2 separate regions of the Homo sapiens genome follow, and region 2 is linked to region 1. Evidence: fine-mapped expression QTL. A gene starts in region 1. The other region holds a variant in brackets. All regions are shown on one strand. Distances are between the middles of the regions. Region 1 holds the start of LMO3 (LIM domain only 3). Region 2 overlaps LMO3 (LIM domain only 3).

Region 1 (12,669 bases):
TGGCAGTTTCAACATAGGCAGCGCCATAACCAACTGCCTGAGTGTGCAGGCAAGCCAAATTGAAATACTTTAAATATTGTGGTTTGTTGGCTATTCCTTAAGCATTAATTTGAGTAACACACACAGGGCAACGCTTTGAAGGCTGACAGGTAACTTCTTTCAGGAATATAAGCTGGCAGTAAGGAAATGAAACAAGCAAACAAAAAATACACTTACAAAAGTACTTTAAAAGGCATCCAGTCATCACTGGTGTGCAAGGATAATTCCTACCTCAGATAGTCTCTGCGACAAAGGATAAGATTAGCTTTAGTGTACAGGGTGGAGCCCACCTCTCCCAAGCGACAGTCACAGCAGGCACACTTCAGGCAGTCTTCATGCCAGTATTTGTCCAGTGCCTTTAGAAGATACCGGTCCTTGATCTTTCGGTTGCAGCCAGCACAACCTTTCGGCTTGGTGTCTGGCTGGACTGAGAGCATTTGTATACCTAAAGGAAGACAAAAGCAAAAAAGAGAGCTGAGACTACCAGACAGAATAAAAAGACCTCAAACAAGTTAAATATTTAATATTTCCTTATTCTAGGAGTGTTAGCTTTTCTTGTTTAGGGCTATACTGAAATCAAACCCAATTTTGGAAACAAAAAGTCTCAAACTTTATCAAGTGCTTATTAAATCATTCAAAAAGTTACACATGCCAAGTGACAATAATAATAAATTCATGTTGACCATGGTAAATTGACATTATAAATATGAAGTTCAATAACATTAAATAATTTTATAGTATCTTCATTCTCCCCATAGAGCAGTTCCTTTAGAAAGAAAATGTGAGTAAATAACAATCTGAAAAGAAAGCTATTTAACAAATTAATCTATGCACAGTCCCTACAAGTAAAAAAATGAGTTTTGCTTAACTGTTTAAAAATTTCACTTAATATGTGCTTGATGGTGGAAGGAGAGGGCACCTGGTATGGGGTTACACTAACCTTATTCAGCAGTAGAGGTGTTTATAGTTAAGTACACAGAACAGCTACCCAAAAAGCTCACCAATCCTATATTTCTTGCTTGCATCCAAATACTTCTTCTATGTCCTTGATATTTCAAAGTATTCATTGTGTTCAAATATAACATTTATACTCACAAGCATCAGTCAGCACCTATATTAATGGCAGATTACTTAACTATATACTATATGCTTTTATGTAAACCTAAAGTATATGATTATACCATTTATTACCATAAACATGCAATTATTTGTTTTATAAAGGAAAGAAAAAACAATAGAAGGCAAGATCTAAATATATATACAATTATACAAACATATATAAGTAAATATATACATGTTATATGTATACTATGCTAAACATAGAAACATTTATATATTTTAAAGGTATAAATCCATCATAAATAAGGAATCCAGCTGGATTCCATGGGCTTTACAGTTTGATTGAAATCTTTTGAATGAATGGACATTCACCTTGAGTGTCTTCTTATTTCCTAGGTATTAAAACACCCAGCTTTAGCAAGAAGCTGGACCAACTATCCAATGCCTCATATTTATCAAATAACTCATTTTAAGCACTATAAAGTACTGCAGACATCATCAATTCCAAATTCCCTCATTTTACAAATTATGTTACCGAGGCCCAAGAGAGGTTCAGAGACTTGCTCAAAGCTGAAAGACAGTTACGCTATAGACTCCAGCCAAATGGCCTTCTTACAGTCCAGAGACCCTTCTGCTGCATTATGTTTGCTCTCCTAGGCATAAAGTTTTAAACTTGCATGTAGAAGGATACAAAACACCAAATGTGCATGCATTATAGGATAAGAAATGTCAAGCTATAATCTGCACTTTTGTACATTTTCCTTCTCCAAAACAGCTAAACCTCCTCCAGTTTCCTCTGATATCTTATGATGAAGGCTTCACCCCCATCACAACTTTCACAACCTTTTAAAAAAAAAATCCCACTGGTAAGAGACATCAAGGCATCCGCAGAGCGGAATAACTTTTCTAACTACAAATAATACATGAGTTGCACAAAATATTGTTAGGATGTTGAACTTTCATTAGAAAATAACTCGTCTGGTAGAGTTGTGTAGGGAATGGCAGGAAATAAAGCAGAGTAGCTGTTCTTTCTTTCTGCATCATAAGCATAGCTGTAGTCACCGGAGCTGCAGACTAACAGCTGGATTTGTAAGAAGAGCAGGTGGTATCCCTATAGCCTGCTTTCTGTTCCTTTCCTTTGAAGGAGCTAAGGGCCTAGTGTAGATTAATCATAACCCTTGATAGCTCTGCTAAATCTCACTCTCTAGAACTTCTAACAAATGAAGTTTCTTTGATCAGAACTAGTTATCCTCTTCTAGCAAGGTTCCACAAGGAGTGAATCCCATTAATTACAGTGAACAACAGATCCAAGTGCCTGTTAACCACATATCTAGGGGGAAGGGGAAGTTTTGATTTACTCAGTGAAATTCTGGATGGTGTTACTGAAAACACCTAGATAATAAATATTAAGAGAAGCCATTCTAATTAAGCCATCCTAATTAACGGCCATTCTATTAAATTTGTAAGGCTATTATTTTTATTTATCACAAAGCTCAAAGATGAAAAATCGAAAAAAAAAAAAATCCCAGTAGCAGCTAAGTTATATTTCCCACAGTTGTGTTTCTACCATCAAGCATAGAAGGTCAGCTGTTTTATTCAAAATGCTTTGCAACCAAGACAGGGGATACCAACATTTGGCACAAGTAACACTACCCTACTTGTCTTCACAAAATGTTTTTGTTGTGTTGACATTTTAATTTAGCACTCAGAGGCCAATTAATATTTGAAACTCTTACATTCTGTTTGGCCTTGGGCATAAAAGGAGTTTGATATTTCACACTCCATCCTGGTACCTTATTTGAAGAACATCATGGCAATTCTCTTGAAAATGGAATCTCTTGAATTCCATGCAAGTTAACAATTGTAGCAAAAGAACTATTTTGTAGTCACCATGTTACCGTGTACTTAAAAGGCATAAAGCAGTCAGCAGTCTCCCCTCTTCCACCAGAAGAACATGTCTGGGTAGAGTTACGTGTTTGTAGCTAAGAAACATTTCACAAGTTGCTCATAGCACATCAGAACTCATAACTAGTTTTAGATTGGCATGTAAATTGTTCTGAGGGAAATTCTTATTGCCTCTGAGACCCTGCCATTCTGAGTTATTTGACAGTTTAAGGGAAATCATAATTAAAAAAAAGACATAAATAATAGCCTGTGCAGTGTGGTGTGCAGAAATAAGTAGAACCATTTCATTTAAACTCTGGTGAGCTTTTAATTGCCTGGATTGCATTGTGAAGCGGCCTAACGGTTGATTGCCTCCATTATGTTCCCTTGTTCTGTACCATTCATCCGCACAGTCTCAGCTTCAGTAGTTAACACAACAAAGTAACCACAACTCCACAACACACAGGGGTTTAAAAAAAATAATAATAATGAAAGATTTGCAGCACTTAGACACAGTCTTACATTTTTGGACTAACTACACAGAGTGAATAGAAAACATTTTGTCCGTCGGAAAATTCACAGAGAACAATTTGGGAGAGGGAAGAGGAAGAGGGAATACATAAAGGGGGTTGGAAGAGATGAGGTGCTTCAGAAAGATGCTAAAATGGGAATGCAGGTTCTGCAGCTGGGAGCATTGACACAGATTAAAAGAATTTGGCCAACATGGCCATTCGATTGCCAAGAGGCACCAGACAAAAGATTTTCTCTCCTCCTGCCCATCTTCATCCTCTTCCCAGCCCCCAACCCAGGTTGGAAAACTGGATTGGGCCTAAAAGCTTGTTTCTCTCTGTTCACTGGCCCAGAGCATCCCTACAGGCTGCAGCCCCCTAAGGGACAACAATGCAAATAGATGTCCCCAGATCTCAGGCACTGGAGCTGCTTAACTCTGTTCTGCCCCTTCAACTCCCAGCCCCCTTCCCTATCCTTCACCCCCCTCCCCTTTTTGAGCAATGGAGCTGGGAACCAATTTGATTCCCTTTTTCTCCAATGCAGCTGCAAGGCTCAGAGATACTGACATTTTTCCACTCTTATCAGTTTAATTACAGTTACCATGGCAGCAAAGTGCTAGTGCTTGGCAAAGGCCAACAAGAGATTTGCAAGACTGAGTTCAATTTTGATGCAGCTCACATGCAAAATAAAAAAAAAAAATAAGAAACATACATACACTCTAACAAAGAATCCCTTGCGGAGTTTATGCTCCAGCCTTTTGTGGTTGTGTCTTTGCAGCCACACAGGGATGGTTTGCAAAGAATGTAGCAGTATTTGTTGCATCTAGCAAGATTAATTGGTTTAAGCAGCAGTCTTTCAAAGCAGTTACAACAATAATATTTCGGTTCTTTCAGAAAGACACAAAAGCAGCGGAAAAGCAGAAAGGCTTTTGAGCGGCCAGGAGTGCAGAGCGCCAGCAAAGTGCATCTATGATAGACTGTAACCTTACCAAAACTTTTCTCCTTTTTCTGCATGAGTTGACTTAGGCGTGTCTGAGTTGCAGCAGCTTCGCATTGAGCACCAAACCCAAAGGTAGAAGTAGAAGGGGGTCTCCTTGATTTCGCTTAAGTGTGGACCTGGTGCGCAGCCTACACCGCCGAGGACCGACTATTGTGAAGCCACTTTGGGAGCGGGTCGGAGTGGCGGCAGGGGGTGGGGGAAGGGATGAGGACGGCCAGACAAGACAGGGCGCACACACGGAGCCCCTCGCAGTGTGCAAAATGATGGCGAATGACAAAGCCACATGCTTCCCTAACTCTGCCCGTAATCCTAAAATCCCAGCGGCCCCTTTTAGCTTCCTGGTAACAAATGGATTTGATTAAACTGTCACATGCAGCGTTAGCATAGCATATCATGTTCAATATGAAAAAGATCATAAATCTGACTTGTATTTCATAACAGCAATCTGAGTAGTCCCCGTAAAAAATGTGCTGCATCAGTTTGAATCTCAATCTATTAGGATATAGGCACCTTGGTCCAGGGACCTTCCCTCTTCTAGCCACTTCTGCCCCTACCCGCCTGCCCCCCCCCCCCGCCCCCATGCCCAAACACAGCCACTTTTCCACGGCAAAGGAACAACATTTTGTTATTATGGCTGCGTGGAGAGAGGCAGAAGCGTCAACAAGGACCAAAAGATTGTAATATCAACTCTTTAAGAAGTGGGGGTTCATGAATTCCAGCAAGTAAGGGGGAGGGGTCCGGAAACCCACCCAGGACTGAATTCTTTTCCTATGGGCTGGGAGCAAACACTTCCTAATTCCAAACTCTCCCTGCCCCTCTCTCCCCGGGAGTCAGGGGTGTGGAAATACTGCAGTTCATGGTGAACTTTGACTATTATCCACTCGAGTCGTACTTGAGACGTTCCGCGCCGCAGCCGCTCTCCCTCCTTCCATCAACATCTTCCGCCTGCATCTATTTCATGTCTCATCATAAAAATAATGAAGCCTCACATGATTTAAACAAAACCGTCTCAGTAGAGCTGCAGCCCGAGTGAAAGTTGCAGTGCGGAGCTGGGTTGCAGCTCCAGTTTATGCCTCATTAGCAGAGGTTGGGGAAGAAAAAAATACCCACATCCGCACACGCACGCGCGCACCCGCAGACACACACACCACAAATAAGCCGACGCGTGTGTACACAGTTGCTGCACTTACCTTCTCAATTAAGCGATACAGGGGGAGGCCGTTCAGTAAGCACAGTGGCTGCTTTGTAGCGCTTCTCCTTGGGAAAGGTCAAAAAGAAGCATTGTTTGAAAAAAAAAAAAAAGACGGGGGAGGGAATGTCTATTTTTTTTTAAGTTTAAAATAATGAGGTCCTCAAGGATACGCCAAGCAATGGTGTTGACCGCATCTGAGCCACAGGTGTCCTCCTTTTAGGCAACTGCAGTCCGAGGCTGTCTCTCTCCGTCCTGGTTCAAGACAACTTACCCCAGCAGCGTGCGAGGAGCCGAGCTGAAGGAAGCTCCGGCTCTCAGCTGCAAAATGCAATCCCTTCCCAGCCAGACATAATACAGCCAAAGAAAAGGTCACTCAGTTATTAGTGAGCCGGCGGAGCCCAGGCAGCGCTTGTCAAGACCACAGAGAAGCAGCTCCCTTCCGATTTAAGACTATTTACCTCTCGCCCCCACCCCTCCCCTCTTCTTTCCTTCTCTCCCTCCCTCTCTCGCTGGCTCCCTCGCTCGCTCTCGTGTGCCTGTTCTGCAGCTCAGTCAAGTACAGCCGCCCTCGGAAAGTGCAAAGCAGCCACGAGACAGATCGGGCTTTGTTGCTAATTTCCCAGGGTGAAAATTTACAAGCCTGCGAGTGCAGTCAGCACAACCACATGCATATGCTACTCACAAACGCTGGGGACAAACCCGCACACAAAATGTGACCTCTGCAGGAGTCGACTGAGGAAGGACCCTACCTCCTGGACCAGTCCAAAAGAAGAACTCCTGCGAGAGAGCTCCGGAGGAAAAGGGTAGGGTTCCTAAAATAACCAGGGCATTTTGGAATAGGTGGCTACATTTAAAGCAAATTGCCTTCCAAAGCCATTTCTGAAGCTACCAATTATGGAAATTAAAATAAAAGCAAGAGAATCAAACTGCTACCAGAATACCCTGGAAAAAGCACACAACCCTCCCCTTTAAGAAATGCCTGGAGGTGGCTGCAGTCGCTGGTCTGTCTGTGACTTCCATTCATGAACTCTCTGAAGTCGCTGCTCCGCAAGTCCGCCACACAAGCCTGGTTCAGGGGATCACACACACACTCTCCTTCCTCCCTTCCTCCCTTCCTCTAATGGCCCAAGACCCAAACTGTGAACTTGTTCTCCATTCACTAATGCTGACCCCCACCACCACCACCCCGAAACACACTTCCTGCAATTACTTGAATTCCTTACTATTTAAAACTCACACGCTCCAATGAAAAACAGCCAACAGCACTGAGAAACATGTTTTCAGGACTAACTTGGTCAAAGAACCATAGTTTCTGCACCATTACTGCTTTGTCTTCACAGGCTTGTTTTAAGGCCTTGACAGATTTTTTTTTTTTTTCTAATAGGTCCCATTCTCTCTAACCTCCTCTCCTCTTAACTTTCCTTGGCATCTATAAAGGCCACTGGTAGCTTTAAAATACCTTATTATTTTTCTAAGTTTTCAAACTTCAAAGTCACCCTCTGTTTGGGCTGCTCTTAAAGTACCCTCACCAGATTTTACAAAGCTTTGTCAGAGGTCAAGCTTAAAAATGGTCCACATTTGAAAGACACTCACTGAAATGTTTAAGAGCCAAGAAATATTCAATTGTTGAACTACAAAAAACTTTTTTTCTTCTCTTCACCATCAGTTTTAATCTAGCTCTAGTTTTAAAAAAAAAATCAAAGCACCCCCCCCATGAGTATTTAAGCTAAATTTTGTTTTTCTTCATAAAGAATAAAGGCACAACATTGATAACTAGTTTTTACCCCCTCCCTTTTGAAGGCTCATAATAAAATAGCCTGTGGTTTGCTTTCCTCTCCCTTTAAAAGGCAACAAAACTCAGAACTAACCTGAAAAATAACGATATTCACAGACGGTAGATTAATGAGAACCCCTTAGTTGACTTGTTCTGTACATAGGCAGATTTCTTAAGTTTGGCTTTTCTGGCCCGTCTAGGCAGGCATACATGCACTTCACCCATCCGCACAGCTCCCCACTGTTCTACCCCACCTCTCTGCTACAGCCACTCTGAAAACACCCCAGTATGTGTGAGTGTGTGTGTGTGCATATGTGTGCATGCATGTGTGTGTGTCTCGTGCGCTCTGTCTCAGCCAATGCACTGAGAAGAAGAAAAGAGGGAGGGAGGGAGGGAGAAGTATGTGTGGGGAAAGGGAGAAATAAAATCAAAACAAATGGTACAGCTAATGAGGACAATTAAATTAATTATGTTCAAGGAGATGAGATTTTTTTTCCCTCCAACTGTATGATCTGTTACCCCTCGCTGGCAACTGCTGCTCTGTAATTCATGGCAACTGATTAGTGCATCTATGCAAATCTTTGTTTAAATCATTCAACTAATTAAATGATGGGATTATTCCTCTGCCTACGGTGACATCATTCGCGGTAATTAGTACTCTATTTGGACTGTGGCAGTAAGATTCCTGATATCAACACCAACCTGCAAAGACATTAACCACTTTGTCACCTTTTTCTTAAGGGACAAACACCCAGATCTCTAAGTGCATCCCATCCTCTTCCTTTTTCCCCAATCTTCCTTTTCCTCTCAATTTTACCATTTCCCCCACACTTATAAGCAAGTAATACTGCCAAGCAAGGAGGAGAGAGAGAGAGAGAAGGAGAGACAGAGGAGAGAGAGAGACAGAGAGAGAGAGAGGAACTTAGCGAATAATATGCCAAACCACATGTGTAAAGGAATAAAATGGAATAGTTAACATTCAGCTCCATGCCATTCATTTTCCCCTAAAATGTAATGATAATTAGATGGGTCATAAAATGCTCTTCTTTTCATTATGACTGATGAAATGCATTAAAGCTGACAGGGTATTACCTGACAGTAATTAGGTTTTGTCATGAATTAAATTATTTGAAAGCAGGCTATCTCCCCAATCACGCAATTTACAGCAAGATTTTTTTTAATCTGTGCTACAGAAGGGAGAGAGATAGAAAATAGCAGTTTTTCTCTTCATAATCATATGAATTATTCACAGAAAAAATCATCAGAAAAACCCCGTGCAGATGAAGAGGCTTGCCACTTAATGTACTGCACAGATGTGATCATCAGCGGTTGCCGACAATGAAATATACAAGTGCACACAAAGTGATCTGGTGAACAAGAGGTGGAATTTAATCATCTTCTGCTGACACTTTGCGAAAAACACCATTAACCCTCAGCAAACTCCCTGTTTTCCTGGCTCCCCCCAACCCCAAAGTCTCACCCCTCCCGCGAGGGAAAAAGTGAAAGAAGAATTTGTGCTTTTGTTTACTCAGCCAAGCTAAAGGTTGGATCCAGCCAGGCAAGCAGTTTCTTCATTTCCTGAGAGTAAACTACCCAGTTTAATTACAGATCCTTTGGAAATCTTTGCGAAAGGATTGCTATAAAGAGCCAGATCTTTTTGGTCCGATTACCTTTTGCCTGTGCCCTCTTTCTGCAACTCATCATCAGACGTTTGATGAGAGAATTTACTTCATCCAGCCCCCATCCCAACACTTATTAAAGGAAAAAAAAAGGCAGACTGTCTTCTTCAGGGGTCTTATATTGTGATACCTTGATGAGGGGAAAAGGGGAGGGGAATGACAAAATGGGGTGGAGGAGGGTGCTGAGGGGGTGATTAGATATATACTACTTACCTTTGCCCAAAGGAGATCTCCCACAAGAAAATAGTGTGTATATATGTATATTTCTAAACACGTCTTCAAGTTTTCAGCTGTTTCTTTCTTTAAAACACACCTCACAGATTACTTTTGTGTGCGGGTGTTCAGTTACGATTTCTGTGGCGTCCCAGAGATGCTCCGGTTAGGTTGCCGTCTTTTTTTTTTTTAATTTTTTTTTTAGGGCAGCAGACAGGTTGTTGGGGGGAGGCAAAGGATAGCACACCCTGAAAGTCCAGGAGCAGTGAAAGGTCTCGGTCAAGGGAAGGATGAGGTTGATACTGCCCCCACCACACACACTCCCACCATCACTCTTCGAAATTCAGCAACACAAATGAAAGAAACCTCTGCTTCAGGCTTCCTGTCTTTCTTGTGTGCCTCTCCCTTTCTCACTTTCTTCCCGAACTGCATACAAAACCTGAGTGGGCCAGAGCTGCTCCTCCAGTATTTAAACACCTCGCCAGGTCCCTAGTTAGCAGCTTCCTTCAGCTCATCCAAGAAGCTGACAAGTACTGTTAGAGGAGGCTGTACATGTTGCTCTAATGGACCTCATTAAGTTCTACTTACAGATGTTCTCTTAACATAATTGATCTGCGGTGAGTTGAGAGGACTGCAACTTATTCCCTAGCCCCCAATTATGGTTGGGTAATTAGATCCCCAACCTCCAATTTTTCACATTCACCCTTCTAACATTCCAAAATATCAAAGTATCTCTCACCAAAGCTCCCCCTTACCGGACTCCACTCTACTCACTGTATTGACAGTTAGATCTGCTCTAACCTTTGTAGTGACGCCAGTTTTAATGGTGCATTCAGTCCATTGACAGAGCTGTGTTTTCTCCCCCAGCCTCTCTTCTCCTTTCCTCTCCACACTACCACCCCCACCCCACCCCCTTAACCCTCAGAAACAAAAGGGTAAAAAAAAAATCCTCTAACTTGTATAGTTTGTACTTTTGATAAAAGGTTTCAGTGATGAGCTTTGGCAGTGGTGCTTCCTTTCTAATGTCTTTTTATCTGTATTAATTCCTCAGATGAAAACTTTAAGGAACAATGAAGGAGAGAGGTAGTGCTCTGAAACGGTGAGAAGAAAAAAATTACACAGCACACCTGGGACAGATGAAGCCAAACTAGTGCTTTTATAATGCCAATCAGCAGGGCTGTTATCATCCCTCTAATTAGGAAAGCAGCCTAAAACAGAGAGCACTTGGGGAAATGGTAATGTTATGGTTTTGCACTTAAAAGGAGAGACATTTCCTGCACTGTAAGAATCTAGGATTGGGGCTGACAAGTCCTTTAATTAATGGGCAGGATTCCCTGTGTGTGCAAGTGTGTGTGCATGTTTTAATTCATAAAAGTGGACAAAGGGTGTTATGAGGAGGAGGGAAAGAGAGATGGGGGAGGGAGGGTGAGTCCATTAGGTTGAAGATGAACAGAGTTCATAGCTACATTCATCTTTTTTTTTTTAACCCCCACAGGACTGAGGTGCAGAACTGGAGTGAGCTGTTTTTCTAGGAATTTGAATGTTATACTGAATAAAAGCCCCAGGCCATAAGGCAAACACAAAGTTTGAGAGAACCCATATTTCAAGTTGGCAAACCCCTGTGTCTAGCTTGCCCCTGGTCGCTATCTCTTTGGGTTGGTGTTTCACCCAGCTCCTCTGGGCTTTGCTGTAGACTACTTTCCCACACACAGGTGCCTAGGATTCACTTTCATTTTGCCGTGCTAAAGAAATATGTAGCTTAAATAATTCCAGCAACAAGATTACTCTTACTGGTAAAAAAAAATGTGGACTAGTATCCTAAGACAAAGAGTTAATATTTGTCTTTTTGAGGGTTTTGAAACTGAACACTTTGAACCTGGCAGCATCGAGTTCTCAATACTGTTTTAAATGGCTTTTTAACACTTAGGAGAAATTCTCCAATGGCTCTAAGAGATACTTCTCAATTTTTTCATTCCCTCTCTCTGCTGTCTGCTATTATTCACAGATATGCATATTCCTACACGTAAATACACATAGGGTAGATTGTTTGAGGGATAATTAATCTAAAATTTAGTAAGATCTTATCTAATTTATTATTTCTTTTTTCCAAAATAAATTCAAATGCTCTATTGCCATCTCAGCTATACTAGTGTGTCACCTAAAAATTACACTTAGATATTACACTTACACCAACATACTAAAGGGATGCTGATTTTACAGTAGTCACAGTGATTGATTAAACAAATTTATCTTATATCAAACTAGTGCTTGACTTGTAAGTCTACTATGTAGAATAAATAAGATTCTTAAAAAGAACACACATTATTCATTTAATTTTTGTAGTAGTATCAACGTCTTTTTAAGGGAAACATAGCCTCTGCTTTCAAAATATCACTAAATTTAGAACCCTAAATTTACCCTGGTCAGAAGGGAGCAGCTTTACAATAGTGTAATTTTATTTTAACATTTTGTGAACAAATTTAAGGTAAGAGTAATCCTTAAAGAAATAAATGGGGTTAGTCATTTTCTTATACAGTTGAAATGGCAAAGCAGCCTCCTTCTAATTTAATGGAAGCAGAAAGTGAAACCAAATAATCTAATATTCAATACCTTTTTAAGATAAAAAGAAGAAACTAAAATGAGGCCCCAAGATTAATTTTATAATTTACCAGAGATTATTTTCAGAAGAATTTAAAATGAAATAAATATCATGTTGTTTGTACTCATTTGAAAGAAAATTTTCATCACTTTAAAAGAAAATCACTTTCTGAACAAAGTAGTACATGGCATTCGCATATGCCTCCAAGCAGCTGGGAAAAATATGTAATTATTTTAAATATCCTTACACAATGTATTGAACTATTAAGCAACCATGCCAGGCTTCAATTCCCTGACAATTCTTTCCATGGATAGTATTTTTTTAAAGACAATGAATACTTTTTGAGGAAAATGAAAATGAGTTTTAATTTCCAATAACCTAGGGTGGGTAGTAAGCCTAACAATAGGCAATACTTTACTTCAGTTTGTAAGAAAGAAAGAAAAAAGAAAACAACAGCTAAACAAACAAAACAAAGTTTCTAACAGGCTTGATACCTTTCCTCTGAATCACTCCACAAGAGCAAACTGCTCTCAGTTTAAATCATATTGCATGACAAGTTGTAACTTACATGTGTGTAATATGCTAAATGAGCTTTCAAAATGTTTGCTAATTCTTTACCTATACAGACATCACAGCAGACTGGATTTCATGTAAAATAAGCTAAGAAGGCAAAGTAAAAATGACCCACCTGTCCCTCCTGCAAATTTTGTAAGTTTTCATT
Region 2 (12,669 bases), 27 kb before region 1:
CAAGCATGACTAGATTGACGTCGCCAAATCACCGTCTGGAGGCCACTCCACGCCAGGAGCAGCAGGGCTTTTCACACCTGATAGGCCCTCACTCTATCTACATCAAGTCACATTAAGAAAGGAATGTATTACGGAACTGGAGTCCGTGCCCCTCAGAGCATTACTCCACTGCCTAATTGCTGCTTCTCCGCTTCCCCGCTTCCCCGAAGTAACAAATGTGTCCACGTGGACCTGCAGCTTACCTGATCCCTTTGGAAAACCAACCTTCCTCCACCTACTCTGCCGATTTGCTCCATTATAAAAATGCAACACCACCAAGACCCAGAGTAAGTTAGAGGAAGACAGTAGGGCTAGAAATTTTGTATTACATATCTCGATCACATTGATTTAAATTACAGGGACCTTGGAACAATGTATAAACGATGACTCTTTAAACCTTTTATTTTTAAATGAAGTTGCAGATGCAGGATGTCTGATCAACGAAAACGCCTGTCTCTCGGATAGTGATTTAGACACCACACGGTGTGCAGAGAGGAGAGACCTTCTGCTTTTGAACTTTGAGTCCCCAGTCACGGATTTGCTGCTCTCCAACCTAAAATCTCCTGTGACAGATGGCATAATAGATATTCCCAACAGCCCAGACTAGCAGGCTGATATTACTTGGTATTTTTTCTTATAGTCTTTCTGACAGGTTCAAAGCACTTAACCAATGATGTGTTTTAGGTAGGGGATAAAAGGTGACTTAGGAACTTTCCCCCTATTTGTACCACTTTTTAAATTTTAAATCTCAGTTTTCTTACTGACACAATGGAGCTAATTCCTATCTGTGCTCTGTTAACTGCAAGACACATAAAGAAGAAAAATGGCTTGTTTCCAACCGCAAAGGATTTATCGGCCATTAGAAAAGAAAGTCTTCTATAAATCTGTAATAGAAAAATTAATCCTTACCATACATTTTGAGAGGTGGTAGGTGGCATCCATTCTGTGAGTGGGGAAACAGAAGTATAGAGAGGTAGCAGTGACATGTCTAAGATCTCATAGTCATTAACAGCAGTGATAGAAATCTGGCCGAGTCCGAGTCTATGTGTTCTGATACCTAGAAGGGTGCTCCCTACATAAGGCACCTCCTTTCTTACCCTCAATTGAAGTATGATACATAGTATGACAAACTAGTAACAAAAAGAAACAAACACAAAACACACAAAAGAAAAGGTGTTTTCGTTTGTTTATTTTTACCTAGAAAAACATAACAGGGCAATCTACAGTATTATGTAACCTGGTACTGACTTCCAAGTTATAATCTAAACTTAACATTATGATGTCCGTCATGTTTTTATAAAAAGCTCCCTATTCTCTTTTGCAGCTCAAAATTCATAAATAAACCCATATGAATAAAACCCCACTAAAATGGAAGCTTTGTTTATCTTCAAAAATATAGGCATAAGGTCAATTTCCACACACTAAACGTCATACTGTCTACGAAGCCTTTTTAATGGAAAAAGCAACTAAAAGACCAAGTCCTCTCTGATAATGATACCTCCGCAAATTAGACAAATTAGTCCAAAGATTTCCCTTTGCTTACATTTTAAAGAAACATCTGAAATCAATATCAATACGAAATTTGGTCAATTATGTAAGGGCTTAGTGTATAAGAGCTAATGTTTATTGAGCCCTGTCTCTGTACCAGACACTGTTCTAAGCATTTGACACGAGTTATTTCATTAATCCTCAGGACAACTGAATGAGGCAGGTTTATTCATCCATTTTATGGATGAGGAAAATGAGGCATGCAGAATTATGTAATACACCCAGCGTCACATAGATAGATAATAGGAGAGCTGGACTCCACACACTGAGCCATTTAGGATTTCCCCTCTTGTGTCAAGAGAACAACAGAAGGAGCCTCAGAGGCTATTCACTACTACCTCTTAAAGATCACTTTTCATGTCCTGACCTGTAGGAAGTGCTTATACATAAAGCTAAATTCTTCACTTTCTACTCACCAGGGCCTTACAGTCTAGTTCTCCCTACGTGACATCCTTCTCTTCTGCAGACTACATTACCCTCCCTCTCCCCATGTTCAATGCACGTAGAAATGAATGTCGGAACATTTGCAAGTCCCTCGAGCCACAGGTCTTGAACTTAACTTTGAATTTGCCTCCTCTTCTCAGACCCCCAAATCTAGCCCTGCCGCTGTGTTAAAAGGGGATCTGTCCTCTTTTGTCTCAGTAAGCTACTTCTAGCGCGCATCGCTTCTCCCTTGCACTCATACTACAACCTCCCAGCTGAACATCTTTCCACCAGCCTGCCCTGCCCTGCTGTCCGCCTTCCACTCTGCAGCCGGTAGCCTTTCTATAACACAGCTCCAACCCATTGATCCTGCTTATAACCTTCCATAGCTCCCCTACTGTATGCAGGATAGATGCAGGGAAGCATGAAAGGTCCATCCTGTCTGTCTTCTTTTCTGTCTTCTATCCCATCACTGAGCCTCAGCCCCAATGTGCTGTCTACTCCCTGGACTCAGCATCTACTTTCACACCTGATGTCCTACCACTCCTGCCTGCTGAGTTCCTACTAAATCTATTCTTCCTGGAAGACTACTGCTGCTTTTTTTTCATATTCAGATCAAATGTCAATGGATCTATGAAGCCTCTCTGATTTCCTTGAGGCAGAATAAATAACACACTTCTTTAGACATTTAAGCACTTGTTTTCATATACTACTTCATCTTTCAGAATCTGTATCAGTTACGTACCTGTTTGTCTCTTTCTCACTACATAATAAGCTCCCTGAAAACTTGCCTTCTCCTTTACTCTGCACCTAACACATGTGATGTTCATATGCTCCATAACTGCTGAATTAGAATGTAGAGATATATAAATGGAAATTAACATTCTTGCATTGTCCAACTATATAGACTGCATACAGGGATTTTACTTATGACCCCTAGATTAGTACCATCTATTTTTAAATACCATTTTAAATTCAGTGTACAATGGACATAAGACCTGTAGGTGGAAGTCAAAAATAAATTACTTAAAAGCTGTTACAAAGAAATGATTATACCACCCTCCCCACGTTCTTTCCTAAACTATCTATTTTAGAAATAACCCAATAAGGGCAAAGCTATATGAGTAAAACTACACTGGAAGCTTGCTAGGCAACATGAGAATCTACTTGCTGAAACTTAGCACCAATTCCATCTGTCTTTGATCACACTCAAGATGGTTTAGGTGCCAACACATCAGAATTCTAATATTAGCAGATGCAGAAAACTTGTGACTGGTAACATCTGTATCCCTCATATCTAGTGATATTTCTTTACCATCATTACCCCATTACTCTAAAGAGTTAACAAACAGCATGATATTATATACCTAACTTAGGCAGACAGTCAGAAGGTGCACCAACACCCACCTGAATTCTGAAAGGCCGTAAACTTTCTTCTTTTTAGGATCATCTCCTAAATTTCCTTTTCAGCTTCTAGGACCATCTCTTATCACAATTCTTCCATGAAGGCCTCCTAAATAAGCTGAGTTATTAAAATCACATTTTCCTAAGTAGTTGGCAGTTATTCTTCATTATTTTCATCATATAGGTTGTCATCTTATTGCATTTATTTCAGCATTCCTAAATATATTATTCTACCCCACTCCCTCCTTCTACCCTCCAGTCAATATTTATTGAGTACCTATTATCAGCCAGATTTTCTACTAGATGTTGTATATAATAAAACAAATAAGAATTTCCCCTGTTCACAAAACGTTTGTGGTATAGTTTTGGAAGAGGACAAGTAAGAATAATAACAAACAAACAGAAAGGACATTCTCATCTCATAACAAATCATTCTGCACACATCTAGAGGAGAATTTTTTTCCTTAAGGCAGTAATTTCCTCATTTCACTCATCTGTTCAATAACTTACAATGGCTCCATCTCACCAACATAATAATATTCAGGTTGCCCATGATGGTTCTCTGGATCAATTTAACAGGGCCACAGTTCTTTCTAACTTTCTTCTAAATGTGTCACCTAATTATGGCTGCCAGATTTAGGATCACAAATTATTTTATGTGACATTTTTAGACTAAAATAATTATCCATTATTTATCAGAAATTTGAGTTTACCTGGGTATCCTGTATTTTGTCTGGCAACACTACAACTAATTCCACCATCTCATTTGGAATTAGATGTACAATGGACTCCAGTCCTCAGTAGGCAACAACTTTCATAAGAAATATATTCTGTCCTCATTGCTCACGGCACCTCATCGCCTCCCAGAAGTCTTGCCAGGCAACAGAGACTGAGTTTTTCTTTAAACTCATAGTTTCATGAAACTTAGAAAATGTTAACTAACTACCTAAAGTGACAGTACTGCAATTTTCTCAAATTCATGTACAATGAATGTTTAGGGGAATTCTAAGAGAATTTTTTCTTCCAAAGCTTGTATAAACTACTCAAGTTTGAGAACAATTGTATTTTACTTAGCTTACCTGAACAATATAAATTAAAAATAACTTCCTACTTTTAACTCTACATGGGGTAGAGGGAGAAAGGGGAGGGGTCAGGTAGAAGGGATGGAGGAACAGGGAAGAGAAGAAGCAGTTGTGCTCTCTTTGGAGTAGATGGTCTCAGGCTGGCCCATGCTCAGGTCTGACCTTAGGTATAAAAGTTTCAAAGTATTAAAATAAAAATCACATTAGGCCGGGCGCCGTGGCTCATGCCTGTAATCCCAGCCCTTTGGGAGGCTGAGGCGGGTGGATCACTTGAGGTCAGGAGTTCGAGACCAGCTTGGCCAACATGGTGAAGCCCCATGTCTACTAAAAATACAAAAATTAGCCAGGTGTGGTGGTGCATGCCTGTAATGCTAGTTTCTTGGAAGGCTGAGGCAGGAGAATTCCTTGAACCTGGGAGGCGGAGTTTGCAGTGAGCCGAGATCGAGCCACTGAACTCCAGCCTGGGAGACAGAGCGAGATTCTGTCTCAAACAACAACAACAACAACAACAACAACAACAACAACAACAAAACATTAATTCACTAGAAGAATATATTCAAGGAGAAATAATTCATGGTTCTATACTTAACAAAGTCTCACTTGAAATAAAAAGAAAAGAAAAAGTTCTTTATTCTAATGAAGTATATTGCATTGTTAAGGTCTAGTATATTACATTTGTACACACTCTTGACAGA[C/A]TGTATCATTGCAAATAGGTGACCTTTTCCAACCCAAACACTCTCTAGAGCTTAGTTTTTTAAAAAGGCACTGATTATAAAGGTCATAAACTTCCACAGGGATTTTTTTTTGAAGAGAACAACATGTTTTCTCTTCTAGCATTAAATTGTATATATATATTCCCTTAGATACACATAATTTAGATATTTAGGGTAACCGTCATTAAATGGTTTGGCTGTTTTCCAATAGAATTAGGAAACCAAGAACAAGAATTGTCCAAATTTGTTCAGATAATTATTACCAGAAAAACAATAGCTGTGTTTCACAAGGAGGTCTTTGGTGAGCCTCAGAAAAGAAGTAAAATCAAATGTGCCTGATGCCACTGATGAGAAACAATTTTTTTGGTAGGATTTACATAACCTTCCAAGTTTACATTTAATTGACTAACAATTTGGTGATGGTATATCAGTAGCTTAAAAGCCAACGCAGATGTATAAGTGAATAGTTCCCTTGCTTCTTATTTGTCGGCATTATGGCCTAATAATTTGAAAAAAAGATTTTAGAATCTTAGCCAGGGTAATGGCTCTAAGTAAAGAAAGATCACGTTGGTGGAATCCTTTAGTTGAAGTCTTACTCAGTAGGAAGGCTGAGGCTGCCTCTTCTCTCTCAACCCCACCTAGCCTACTAGGCACTCAGTAAGAATTCAGAAAATTTTTATCTTGTTTTTCCAGTAGAAATAGCATTTCAGAATGACCAATAGATTCAGTGGCCGAGTGAATGCGATACTTTACAGAAAAATACCAGCTTATAAATGTAGAAGTGATAGGATGACAATCTAATTTTTCAACCTGTACTGATTTAGATAATGATTATCCATTGTTATTTATACCCACTAGGTTTAATTGCCAACAGAGAACCAGGTATCTGTTGGTATTTAAGTAATGTTGCACAGGGTGCTTTCTGGTCACAATGAGAAAGGTGTAACTGTACAAAAGCAGGATCAGTTTATCATCTCATGATCAATTTAAGTGTCACAAATAGTGAGATAACAGATATTATGTATTTCCTGATATTATACAATATGATATCATTTATCATGTATTCTAAAACAAAATATACACCTACGTTATTTTTATTTTTTAATAGAGATGGGATCTCTCTATGTTGCCCAGGCTGGCCTCCAACTCCTGGGCTCAAGTGGTCCTCCCACCTCAATCTCCCTAGTAGCTTAGACTACAGGTGCATGCCACTGCTTCTGGCAATATCTGAATTTTGTCAATGTTTAAAGCAACTTCTGTTTTACTGGGAGCACTAGGAATAGAAGGATCAAGAGCAAAGACACCACAAGGATGCAACCAACCAAATGAAGTAGGTGAAAAATTTTAGAGGACCACTTCTATGGTCTCTTTAATAAGTGAATGTCATGAAAATGACAATGTTCAAGATTAAGAGAAACTTCATAGACATGACCATCAGATGTAAAGTGAAATCTTGGATTGGATCTTGATTTGGAAAACCTTTGGAGGACTTTTCTGGGGACAACTAGAGAAATCTGAACAAGGATCAGGTAGTAGATTATATAAAATTTCACTAGCATGGAAAAATGTAGATCATAGTCTAAAAAATTAGGTTACAAAACAGAATGTAAATACAATCTCAATTTGATAAAAAATACATACATGTGCATAAATACAGGTAGAAAAAGATTTGGAATGATGAATAATTAGAGCAAACATTAGTAGGTTCTGGTAGAATCATGGTGATTTTGTTACTGCATTTTTGCTAATCTCTATTGTTAAATTTTTCACGATGTTCTTATAGTTGCTTTGCAATAAAAGCTTTTATTAATTATACAAAGAAACAGAATTGACCACTGTTAACACCTTATTTGTTTTAAATCTATTATGAATAAGTATACTGTGTATTGGACATGCTATATACAACACAGACATTCAGTCATCCCTCAAGTTTATGTTTGTTGTGCTATTTTATAACTAATGTTTTGATGAAATTGCAGCCACTAACAAATTTTTTTCTAATCTACAATTAATCAACATTGTAAATAGTTAGGTACAAGAAAACCATTGGTTATCTGGAGAGAAACAAAGGAAGTTCATCAGTGCTTGAGTTTGAATGATTGAAAATTCAATTACAGATGACAGGATCAATTTATGGGGACCTCGGAGTAAGTCCCTGAAGCCATGTCCTCAGTCACTAAACACTAGAGTACAGCTCATAAGGATGGGTTCTGGAGTCAGTCACACTGTCTGGATTTGAATCCTAGCTCCATCACTTGCACCTTGGGAACTTTGACTAAATGACTTAATTACCCTCAGCCTCAGTGCCTTCTTCTCTAAAATGGGTTTAATAATACTGTAGTTCCCAAGGGCTAGAGGAGATTACATCTGTACAGCACTTAGCACATATATAACTCATTGAGAATACCTGAAAAATAATACTAAAATATAAGATACATAAAGGCAAATATTTCTGTCCATTTTTTTAACTGCTGGAGCCTCAGTTCCTATAACACTACCCATTATAGAGTAAATCCTCAAGAAATATTTGCCATGATCTGAGTTTCATTCTGTTGACTTTCTTTCACAATGTTAAAACAAACACTCAAAATTCCATTGCTATTATAACAGGCTTACCATCAGTCTCATTGAGATTTTTCTGTGATACTTATCTAGCAGGGAAGAACAGAAAAATAGAGGACTTTTTTTTCAGCAGAGTTTTCCTTTAAAAAGATTTCTTCATATGAATGCTGAACTCTAAAGCATATATATTTTAATAATTGTATTACTACTCTTTATTAATTTCTTTTATATTCCTAACAAGCTATTTTTGGCATAGAATAAAACTATAAATTTGATTTACTTTTTTATTTAGCTGCTATGCTAAATGTACCTATTTCTTGAGTTTTCTCGATTTTCTGCAGATAAAATAATTATCTTTTTTACTATTTATATTTATTTACTTCGTTTTCTTATCTTATTACATTGGCTAGACCCTTTAAAACATTAAATATGAGGGACAATAATGAGTATCCCTGGCTTTTTCTTGGCTTTAATGGAAATTACTTTAGTATTTAGCTGTTTTATAAATTTGCAGTTAGGTTTCAGTAAATTTTCTTAATCATATTTAACTGGTTTCTTCCTGTTTCTCTTTATTTGGAAGTTTTGAAATGGCTGAATTTTATCAATTGCCTTTTTGGTACAGACTGCCATAACTATGGTGTTTCTTCCTCCAGTTTGATAATACAATGAATTAGATTGAGATATGTCCTGGTGTTCATTCTCTGAATTCTAGAAAACATCTTACCTGTTCCTATAGTATTATTCATTTTAGACAGTGACAGACTATTTGCTAATATCTTTCAAGTTTTTGTATCTGTATGCAAAAATAGCATTAGTGTTTTATATTTTATATTGTCTTTATCAGGTCAAGGTACTGTATTAGAGTTATGTTAGTTTTGCATAAGCTGCTTTACATATTTTGAACTTAAGCTTCCTGTGTAACACTTAATTGTGGATACTATGGAAGTGGCTAGATATACATTGCTTAAGCTTGTTGGAGAGTAATGGGCTACGGGTAGAGATTGAGCCATCACAATAAGAGGAGGGATTGAAACCATGAGGACAAATAACATCTCCTAGGAAAAATAAGTATACCACAACAAGATCACCGTTCCTAGGTACGGTCCCTCACTCTTTTAAGTATCTGATTGGGATGAGACGCCCAGAAAAGAATCAGAACTAGGCCGGGCACGGTGGCCCATGCCTGTAATCCCAGCACTTTGGGAGGCCAAATTGAGTGGATCACCTGAGGTCAGGAGTTCGAGACCAGCCTGGCCAACATGGCGAAACCCCGTCTCTACTAAAATAAAAAAATTAGCCGGGAGTGGTGGCATGCACCTGTAATCCCAGCTACTCAGGAGGCTAATGCAGGAAAATCTCTTGAAGCTGGGAGGCAGAGGTTGTAGTGAGCTGAGATCACTCCACTGCACTCTAGCCTGGGTGACAGTGCGAGACTCCGCCTCAAAAAAAAAAAAAAAAAAAATCTAAACTGTAGGGTCATGGCATCCAAGACAGTAGAAAGCTTTTAAAGAGAATAAATGATCAACACTATTAAAAGAGAAGAGAGACTGTAAGATGATCCCGGATAAAATGCCCATTGGCTTTAGCAATTGGATGTCAGTAACAGCAGTATCAGCAGAGTGGTGAGAGACAGAAGCCAGATCACAAGTGGGTAAGGAGTGCAAAGGAGGTTGAGGGAGTATGGATGACAACAACAGACTGTTCTTTTTTTTTAAAAAAATTAGACAATAGGGGAATTGATAACAGTAACATAAATTTGAGGGATAAAGCATCTTTTTACAGAACAGAAAAATCTTGGGTACAGCCATATGTTGACAGTCAAGTAATTGTAGAAAAGAAGATACTAAAGACTGAAGAAAAACAAGTTACCTCATAAAATGAAGACACACAGAATACTGGAGGGAATGGAGCCAAGGACATAAAATTGGCCTTAGAAGGAATAGGAAGACCTCATTCCCATAGATGGGATAAAAGAAATTAAAGATAAATGGAAAAGCAGATAAAATGTAAGAGGCTGATTTATATCAAACCTGATAAAAAACATCAGGGAATATCAATCTGTATGTTATTTGCTTGTTTCTAGCAATGCTTAACCACACTGTAGGAATGGATTGAAAAAGGGTAGCATACCCATGGCAATTTGTTAGACTGGAGCAGTGGTGAAAATTGAGCTAGCACAGGCATGGGAGGAGACACAGAAGATGGAAGTGAAGGGGACTTGCCTGATTGACAGTTGGGTTCATAGTGGGCAGGAAAGATAGAAGTCTTAAAGGTTTGACCAAATTAGGAGAAAGAGACATGACAGGAGAGCTGAATGTCTGAAATCAAAGATCAGTGCTATTACAAGTGAAACAGGACTACAGTGTGGAGTTTAAGATTCCTGAGATGAAATACTTTTCCATAAGGAAAAGACACTGTATATAATTCTGGGATGGCAGGCTGATGTTCAGTAGGGTCAAGGAGGCTCAACAAGTTAGGGCTTGGTTTCAAGTGAGTCATCTCTAAGCCTTTTAGAATCCCTAGAATTGTGGTAAGAGGGAAATGACAGCAGTGAGTAGGGGTAAAAGGTAGTATAATTAGATGTACGAGTTTTGTTGGAGGATGCATTTTTTAGTAGTGAGTGGGGAGAGTTATGTGTATCTAAGATTGCCAGTTTCTCCTCTTGGCTTCATGGAATGTGGGATTTACATGAGTAAGTAGTACCTTGCACCTGTTGACAGCTGAAAGAAAAGTTGCCTCCTTAAAGGAGAGGCAAGTTTCAGGTAAGGCAACAGATGAAATTCAGTTAAAACAATATTTTGATGGGAAAGGCATCTGGCCAAAAGATTGTGGACACAGCAAAAGTTATTGACAAGGACATGAGGTTTCTGGAGGACCCAGTGGAAAAGTGTTGAGTGAACGTAACAGCAGAAATATACAGAGAATGAGGAAAGGAATGGAAACAAGAGACGTTTTAGATTAACATTGGCAAGTGGAGGAGTGGGGGGGGTAAGAGGCCTGTTTAGAGGTGGATGGCCTCAGATGTCTTAGCTTTGGCACAGTGAGGGTCCCAGAAAATATCCCACTTAAGTCCAAACATATTGCAATGGCTGCCATGAAGTTCAAGAAACAGCAAGAGATTTCTTTTATCAGGACGGGCTGCTTCTCGCCTCACAAAGCAGTGCCAAGACTCCTTGTTAGGCTGAAAGCTCCCAGGAGATTTCTGAAGCAGGAGTGTAACTGGTATACATTGGATGAAGGGCTCTGATCCTCTCTTCAAGAATTCAGGATGCGAGGAAATATTTTCAAACACCTTAGCGAACTGTACACATTAAAGGGCCTGATCAGTTATCTGAAACCAGAATTTTATGATTCTGACCAAAAAGTTACATACTAGTAGCTGTGTGCCACATTAGAGTTAGTTGCCAATGTCTTATATACAAGAGATTTTACTGAAATATCTAGAAAAAATATCTGGTTTATCCAGAAAAATCAGCAACATTAGGCCCACATTCGTACAGTGTGCTGGAATTAAGTCATGGCTTCCCCCTTTGGGTGGCGCATGCAAGCCCCAGTTCACAACGTTATTTTTCCTTCCAGACTCCGGAACCTGGAGGCAATTGAGTTTGTAATTCCCGTCTTAGCCCTTGGCAAGATAAATAATTCAGCCTATTTTATTTACATTCAAGTATCATGGTAGAAAACAAGTTATTGATTACTGCTTCAAGAAAAAGGATTTGCATATTTGTGTATATATTTTTAAAAAGTGGATTAACTTTATGTTAAACAATCACTTGGCCACAAAGATTAATATTAACCTATATTAAAGGTTATTTTTGCTACCATCTTCATCCTACACAGTGAGCATAAATGTTGTTTCAAATATTGTTCCCAAATATTATTCAAATTCACCTAATTTTACATATAATTGCAGATTAGAAAACTAATTTCATCACAATCTCCCCTTTCCTAAATTCCTCTCACTCAGCTATCTGAGCATCTCTCATGCATCAGGCCCTATGTTCCCACCTGTATTTTCTTTCCGTTGAAGTCCACCCATTCCAATTATTTAAGTGATTTCATTTGAATGATGTCAAAACTAATCCTCAGGTGATGTAAGCAGCTCCAAATATAATAATAGAAAGGAAAATATGGGTGAGAAATTACAAAAGGCTGGAGAATCAATTAACATATATACTTCTAAACAATTGTTAGAAAGTAAATTTGATCTGGGCTTCCCAGGAAACAAAGAAAAGAGGGAAAATGTCAACATGTATATGATTCACAGGCCCAAGTAAAACATCATTTAGTCATTTATAGTCTCAGAAATCTTGCTTATCCTAAGATCTGGGCGACATTTCACCAGTGAGGCGGTAGGACATTGTGTGATACAGTAAACAAAGTCCCCAATAGCATCCTTAGGACACTGATGTTTTTGCAGCTGTTAATGAAAATCTTCAACACAGGAAAACAGCAAAACCTTGATGTACAATTCCATAAAAATTTTTGAGGGGCCAAAACAATAGGGGTCAAGATCAAAGACACAGGGAAGGATAAATTAAAAACCATCACAAGGAATAATTCAACATCCAGTTTTTCAGGTAATCTGCCATAAATACTATTTCCTTCAGATGACTTCTTAAAACATAAGAATGGAAAAGCAGCATTTGAAGTTGTAATCTCTGGCAAGAACACAGAGTGTTAAGATGTCATGATACGATGAAGTCCACATACGGAACAACTAAGAAACAACTAAAACACGTGCATGAATGGAGAACCACTGCATGGCTGTGGCAAGGAGAGCGGAGGATCCTAATCTTCCCCAGCAAGGCTTTCTGGTTCTCCTCCAACACACAGCTGAGTCACAGAGGCCCTGGACAATGTGTCTGGACAAATCTCACGCTAAGCATTATCTTCTA

The links. PIP is the estimated chance that this variant, and not a neighbour inherited with it, causes the effect.
Region 2: its variant is fine-mapped to the expression of LMO3 in subcutaneous fat (GTEx, PIP above 0.99).

Annotation. Positions count from the first base shown.
Region 1 is chr12:16,600,385-16,613,053 of GRCh38, forward strand. LMO3 (LIM domain only 3) reads right to left here and starts at 5,778. Exons shown (of 4, transcript NM_018640.5): 1 at 5,682-5,778; 2 at 271-484. The coding sequence starts at 476. RefSeq lists enhancers at 4,212-4,712, 9,601-10,100.
Region 2 is chr12:16,573,834-16,586,502 of GRCh38, forward strand. The region is part of intron 2 of LMO3 (LIM domain only 3); the gene reads right to left. It also overlaps a transcript of MGST1 not described here. Among named protein-coding and RNA genes, the nearest start is that of LMO3, 26 kb to the right of the region's middle. The variant C/A (reference allele first, on the strand shown) is at 5,192.